Homo sapiens: one gene and its partner. The protein of the gene in region 2 interacts with the protein of the main gene of each other region in a biochemical or structural test. Each region holds a gene or a part of one and is shown on either strand. Other genes may lie near its edges.

Region 1 (3,753 bases), on a different chromosome or scaffold from region 2:
GTAAAACACTGCAAAAGCCATAGGCTTGAGCAAAGTGAACCTCTGTGATAACACTTGGTGCTCTCTGACAGCCCATTAGAGACGGGGTGTGTACACCTAATCCAAAGGAATCCTCTAGCTCTTCAGCAGCTGTTCACATGGCTCATGCCCTGCCCTTCAGCGTCTACTAAATCAGGATTCCCCAGCTGTCTGAGCTTCCCGTAAGCGATTTTAGTTAACCACCTACAAGCCAACATTTCTTGCATCTGATTACGCTCTTTAAAGTCTAATTTCCCTTTTGCTTCCTAGTTATTTTGCAACATGTGAGTCATTGGGATTCATCATTTTTACAGATTATTATTTTTTCACTTACTCAACTAGTTTATTAATATTTTGTTCACTTAGTCACCAATTTATTTCTAATACATCGTTCTTAAGCACCAACATAAAAAGGAATTACTCAATTTGCCTTTGATGAAAATACGTGGGCCATTCTGATTTTGTGATTTTTCTTTCTTATTTCTTTAATTTTTCCTCACACAGCTTCCAAGGCTAAAATCTGCACTTGTAACAGTGTACTGACTCCCTTGCCCTTTAAGTCAGCACTTAGCTCAGGCTAAGGTACTATTGCAACCGTAATCTGATAAAGGAAGAGACAAGTTGAGTGCAAATAAAGATGAGTGCCAGGAATGAGAAAAAAGCTACTGATGTTTATGCCCTTTTATAGTCCTGATTCCATGACAGTCTTAGCCAAAAGCAGAGTGGAAGAAGGGAGAACGCTTTAAAACAAAACAAAACAAAAGCCAAGAAGAGGGTAAAAACATTTAAAGGGTAAGCATTTTATTTGCCCATAATTGGAAATAATATGGGACACCGTAATGGTAATTGTGCTCAGCTAACACTGACCTTTTTTAAAAATCAAAATTTTCATGATAGTGAAGACAACACATTTAAAAGTTGACAAATTAGCAAGAGACTTCGTGATATATATGTGAATTCCTCATTGTTGATATGCCCATGTATGGTTTTCATATTTATTAAATATAAACAAAAAACATCATGATTCGAGCATCTGATTTTTTGAAGTTTCTTTAAAATTATCTTAATCCTCTCCAAAACCCATTAAGCCATCTACATTCTCATTTCATTACATGGATAAGCATTGGCTTTAATAATGCATTTTAATGTACCTCCTCTTCGTTGACACAACCACATTTTTCTACTAAAATAAATAACTAAACTAAAATGAATAATAAACAAAAATAAAGGCAAAGCTCTTCCTCAGATTCTTTTATTCAAATGGCAATTAGACCTACATATTATTCACCAGTCTTAGATATATTTCAGATTTCCAAATTGGCATGAGAAAATCAATTCATCAATTTGCTAGCATTTTTAATTTATGGACAATTATTTTCTTAAAATGGTATGTAATCAAAATACTGAGTTAAAAATTCTGAAAGAGTCATTTAAGAACAACAACAAACAACAACAGCAACAACATTTTATCAGCATGGCAAGGAAATGACAACTCCATTTCAATTAAAGGATCATTGTCCATTCTCCCCCAGTTCCCATTAGTGAGGAATGGGGTTCATAATGACAGAGTGAAAGTGAGGCATTGAGGGAGAAGGCAAAAGATCACAAAAGAAAGCAGGAATACATTGATTTCTAAACCAAATCCAGACTACTAAGAACATTGGTTTTCTCAGGGCTTACTATCATTACATATACTACGCAAAGTCACCTTCAGAGGTTGTAGGCCTCCAGAAAATTGCTCTGTGTGTTCCGTTGCCTACTGAAATTCCCAAGTATTTTGAACGAGTGATATCAGATTAAAATAAAGATCGAGCTCAGAGTTGAATAGAAATTATCCCTTAAAATGGCAGCCTAAACAGAAGATGTGAGCTATAAAAGAGGGAGTACTGATCTTTGTGTTTTTAATGGGAATGAGGTAGAGGTTGTATGGCCGTGAGATGAGGACTCTTTTTATTTTATTTTTTTTTAACTTTTAAGTTCAGGGCTACAAGTGCAGGTTTGTTACATAGGTAAACTTGTGCCATAGGGGTTTGCTGTACAGATTATTTCATCACCCAGGTATCAAGCCTAGTACCCATTAGTTGCTTTTCCTGATCCTCTTCCTCCTCCAACCCTCTACCCTCCGAAAGGCCCCAGGGTGTGTTGTTTCTCTCTATATGAGGACACTTTTAAGCATAAGACAGCAGAGCCATTTCCCTTCCTCATTCTCATTTGTCTGCTGCCTATCAGAATTGTGCTTAAGAAAATTTATATGCCCTTAAAACGCTGGAGCCAAATGTATTTTTTTGGTCTTTTTGTTGGGCCATATTCAAGGAAGTAATCTTGAATGGGGAAACAGAAAGGCTATGCCCTGGGTGTTAAAGTATTTCATAATCTCTAGAGGAGCCATCTGGTTTAAGAAGGCACATTGAATGCTATAATATGCTGTAATATATGAGGGAAACAGACTTTTTATACTATCAAGCCTTTCATGAAAAAATTTCATGAAAAAATAAACAAAATCATTTTAGCTTTTAATCTTGGAACTATATTTAGTATAGGAGTGATTCACAAATAGCAGAGTTACTCTCCCATTCGAAGGGGTTATCAGAATCTCTGGAAGACACATTCACTTTTAGTATTAAGTAGAGGGAGCTTGAAATTTTGCAAGGATTTTAGGGACAATTCTATAAGTGACATAAATAGAAAAAACCCTCCAAACTTGGTAAAATAATAAATTATCCCATGGTGTTGCCATTTTAACTTTGATATCTGTATTAAAATGAAACTTCAGAACTCCAAACATATGTCAATATTTTATAGCATGAAACCCCAAGGAAGTCTAACTAATAGATGTTTTACGTAGGGAAAAGGTGAAGACTACAAACTATTTATTTGCTTGGTTTGTTTGTTTTTTGAAGATCAGTATACTGCATTGAGCACACTCTACAAGGGGAAATATTTTCATGAAACCTGGTTGCATTTAATAAAAACGTTTATTTCCCACACTGCAGCCCATGACCTTCCCCAGAAAATATTCCAATACGAACCAACTGCCTTGATAACAGAACACAAACCTCCTAGGACTATAGCAGGACTTTGTGAGAAAGAAAACCATTGCCTCTCTCTGAATCCAATCAAAACCTGAATGTACTGTATAAAAATAAACCAAGGTCATCATTATTCCTTGTCATTGTGATTTGGCGTGCCTTCAAATTATATACCCTGTATATTTCAAATAACTGCACCGCCTCCATTAACTGAGTTTGACATCACTTTAATCAATGTATCTTTTCAGAATGAAAGGCAGAAATGTCAAATTCCTACCATTATAAATTCTTTTAACTCTCTAATCTGCATTAAATAAAAGGTTGTCTTTGAGAAATAATAAATGCTCTAAAGAAATATAACTAGCATCAATTTTATTTTAAAATGTAACTGGGAAAAGATTAAATGTCAACACATCTCTTCATACAGAGGTGATTTCCCAAGAAACTATTAAAGCCTTACTTACATGAGGGGCCCCTCCCAAGGCTGTATCCAATTTTCTATTATTTTTCTTAAAATAGCACCCCCAATTGTATAACCTCAGGCCCCATAAATCCTTTCTTCCTGGTTCGTTCTGTGTTGTCAGACAGGGAATGTACATTAGTCTCATTTGTCAATTCCTTAAAAAATGATGTGTGTTTAAAATAGAAAATTTAGAAAAATGAACAGAAAATTATCTTTAAAGAAAGGTTAATTTCTAATTAGACC
Region 2 (3,753 bases):
CCATCACCTCCAAAAGTTTCTTTGTGTCCCTTTGTGGTTTGTTTCTGAGATAAGAACACTTAACATGTGGACTCTTGACACTCTCCTTGGATCTCTTAATTTGATTGCTGTTGCTGTCACCACATTGACTTCCTAGCCCTGCTGATCCTCCTTTATCACTAGCTCTAGAAAAAAAAACAAACCAAACACCACTAATTCATTTATTCAGTAATTCAACAAAAAAACCATTGAGCACTTAATATTTGCAGAATACATGGCTAGATGCAGAGGATTCAAAGAATTGAGTGAAGTCACATAAAGTGTTAAGAACAGTGTGTGATACAAACATGAAATATGTTAGCTGTTAGAATTTCAAACTCACTTCCATATCAATTATAATAAGGATTTCCATAAATAGCAGAATAGTATTTCTATTAGATGCTCACAGATGCTAATAAAACAGTAGAATGGTAAAAACCATGCATCCCCCAAGGCAAGAGAAGGTGAGCTATTTTGCCTCGGTGGCTCAATATTCCATCAATGGGTCCTGCTTTAAACTGCAAGTACCTGCCTTCCTTCTTTCAACAGACTGACTCCACGTTGCTTTAGGAAAGATTCACTGAAACAAAGGAATAAACCACCCAAGATATAGTGTTTTTAAAAACATTTTTTAATGAAGAAATTATTCCACTCCAAAATATAGACACACAATTAAATAGTTTAATCACTTCAAAATATAACATGTCCCCAGGAGGTTCCAACACACACACACACACACACACACAAAACAATACTTAACAGCAATACAAAAATCCATACAATAGTATTTTTTTTTTACAATACCAATGAATATTGTGAAATCTTTAGTGTCTCTGAATTGATTATTTCAAATGGTGTCAAATTGCAGTAGTCATAATTAAAAATGTCTTACAGTTAATTCGCCTCAAGATGCAACACTTCTGATTTTTTTTTCTCTTTTTGGTTCAAAAGTAAAAATGCCCTTTCTTCTAAGGACAGTGGAGTTCTCACTTGTGGCTCCTTGCGTGGAATCGAACCAAGGGGAATGCAGCAACCAAAGGTTGCTGGATTTACAAGATCTATCTACGGTTAACAGCCAAGAACTAATAAGGGTGGACAAAGATGATCAAAATAAAAGCAGACATCAGTGCTAAATTATGATGCAACAGTTTGGCTCATGCATATAAGAAAATACATAGTATATCACAACAAAGGCCACACACTCTTAATGCAATTCAGTTCACATTACTACTTACAAATGAACCTTCCCTGCCTTATAGTAGATCATTCAAGAACCCATTTTTCACAATCTCCAGCACAACTCCCTCTGACCAACCAAACTTACCCCAACTTCCGTCCTGACCAACCACAACTGTTTCCTGAATCCCATGCAGTAGATTTCACCTTCCTCCCCTCCTCCATTAATATGGCGCTGTGGAGGAGGGTTGGCTGTGTTAGACCAGTGCTTATTAACAGGCTATCAGCTCTGATGGAGATGGATGTGCAATTCATTGTGGAACAAGAAAGAAACAACCCCCGCAAGATGTAGTTGTATCTAATGGACAGGACAAGTGAAACTTGCTGGGTTTGCACTTAGAACAGGCCCCAAAAGTAAATCTGGAGAGCCAAGGAAAGAAACCCACCAAAAAACACAAAACCCCAAAATAACACACGCCATTTTGTCTCGCTTACAGGACAGGGGTGCTCGAGTCTGGTCTCAGTGCTGACGTGGAGCTAAGAGAGAGAAAAGGTGGCTGGTTAGTCAGAAATTGGTCATTGGCGGCAGTTTCCAGAGTCCTTGCAATGGCTTTATATGACGATATCAACAACCATGTGATGGAGTTGGTTGGCAATGAAATAGCTATGACAACGGGGAAGGTTATCAGCAGAACAGTTCAAATCTTAGACGAACATTTTGATGTAGAAACACAAAGAAACAACATATGCCAGCTCGGTCCAGTCAGTGGTGGAGTGCCACGTGCAGGATTTAAGTTCTGAGTTCAAGAACTACCTGGCTATGATTTTGAGCTGACAGCATTATAGGTAGCTGGGATGTAGTGGTTTTCAATACTGAGTATGAGGCACCAGTGGCCACCTGCTCCATCTAGAGAGGTATGGGTTCACAGAGGATGGGCAGTGGAAAAGAGATGAACATTAAGACACCCCAACAAAACCCGCAATAAAAATCAATCTGTGCAAAGAAATCTGAGAACTGTGCAGTTGTGCCACTTTGGTGTCAGCCTGTGCTCAGAGACATTTGTCAGGTGAGTTCTCTGGAGAGATATATGATTAAGTATGTCAAGGGATAGGATGGGCTTCTCACTAATGCCAATTGAGCACTTTATCCCCAAGGCAAGTGATTTGGTTTCAAAGGGCAGCCAAGGAGATGATGTCTGACCAAACGCAGACATGTGAACATCGTACAGCCGCCCTCTGCAGAGGGGGCATGAAGATGTCAGGACTTGGCTGGGCACCTACCAACTACGAACTTGGTGTGTGGGTTCAGAGAAGGTTTTTGCCAGCCCCAGAAGCAAAAGTGAATCACAGAACCTTTCTTGCTTATTCTGAATAAGGCCTTTTCAGAGACTTTATTATACGACTTCATTCTAAAGCAGTAGTTCTCAACCTTTAGCGAGCATCAGAATCACCTAGAGGGTTGACTAAAACAGACTTCTGGACCCAACCCCCAGAGCTTCTGATTCAGTAGGCCTGAGGTGGGGCTTACAAATTAGTATTTCGAAGACCTTCCTAAGTGTTGCAGATGCTGCTTGTCCGGGGAACACACTTTGAGAACTATTGTTCTAAAATGTTCTCTCCTTTCTTTTAAAGGAGAGACAGGAATTCCAGAGAAACTGCTAATTTAAGCATAATGTATTGAATAGGTCGCAGGCTTTTTTAAAAAAATCAAATCTTGAAGCAAGTAGAAGATTACTTTTTCTTTTTCCCCAGAATTCCCAAAGGAGGTCTTTAGGGCCCTCTAAAGAGGGTCCTTGGAAAAGACTATCCCAGTCTTTTATCCTCTTGTCTTTGATAGCTCTTTTGCACTTCAGCTTTTCACTGAGTGCAAAAATCCCAACTCAACTTAGAAGAGCCTGTCTCCTTTCACATGACCACAGAAGGCTACATGCAGAACACCAGGTGGCCAGCTAAGGCAATCAACATTCAGAAAAAAAGGAGAGCAAACGTTTGCAAGCGCACTTTAAGCCTGTACATTTAAAGCTGAAGGCCTCCAAACAACTTGATGGGGGAACTTGTGAACGAGCGGTGCTGTTAAAGACATGCTTCCTAAAGCCAAAACGAGAGGAACAAGACCATGGAAGAGCAGAGATAACTTTAGTCCGTTTGGGGATCTTATGGCACCTGTGGTTTATAAACAGCTTTAGTAACGAGTATTTCAAAACATAGTTCACAGTTTTTAAGAAGATCTGTGCTGATTTTAAAAACTAGATTCTATATAATTTGAATGCTGCCTTTTTTGAATATGATATCTATTTGGAAAAAAAAATATTTACACTAAATTCTATGGCTGATTAGAGTATCTTGAAAGAAAACAACCTCGAGTTGGAAAGAGGCCCCAAAGAATGGATTATTCCTGGTGTGTTTGGTTCAAGTCACTGCTCACAGAGACTTGGAGTCAACTACAGACCGTGCAGGCCAAGGACCCTTCTTGGCTTCCGGGCTCTGAGTTTGTACACTCAGGAACCAAATTCTTCAGGGTTATTGAATGATTGCAAGTGGTTGTTTTTTTCCAATTGC

What was found. The genes of interacting proteins can lie anywhere in the genome.
Region 1: the proteins of DTNA (region 2) and DMD form a complex in vitro, tested with the Homo sapiens proteins (3 studies listed by BioGRID and IntAct, with this or other methods).

The regions. Positions count from the first base shown.
Region 1 is NC_000023.11:33,204,894-33,208,646, forward strand, and holds part of DMD (dystrophin), read right to left. Parts: intron 1-3,753. UniProt on the Homo sapiens protein: Anchors the extracellular matrix to the cytoskeleton via F-actin. Ligand for dystroglycan.
Region 2 is NC_000018.10:34,888,278-34,892,030, reverse strand, and holds the end of DTNA (dystrobrevin alpha), read right to left. Parts: 3' UTR 1,732-3,753; coding exon of another isoform or gene 1,591-1,731; 3' UTR 187-1,590; downstream 1-186. UniProt on the Homo sapiens protein: May be involved in the formation and stability of synapses as well as being involved in the clustering of nicotinic acetylcholine receptors.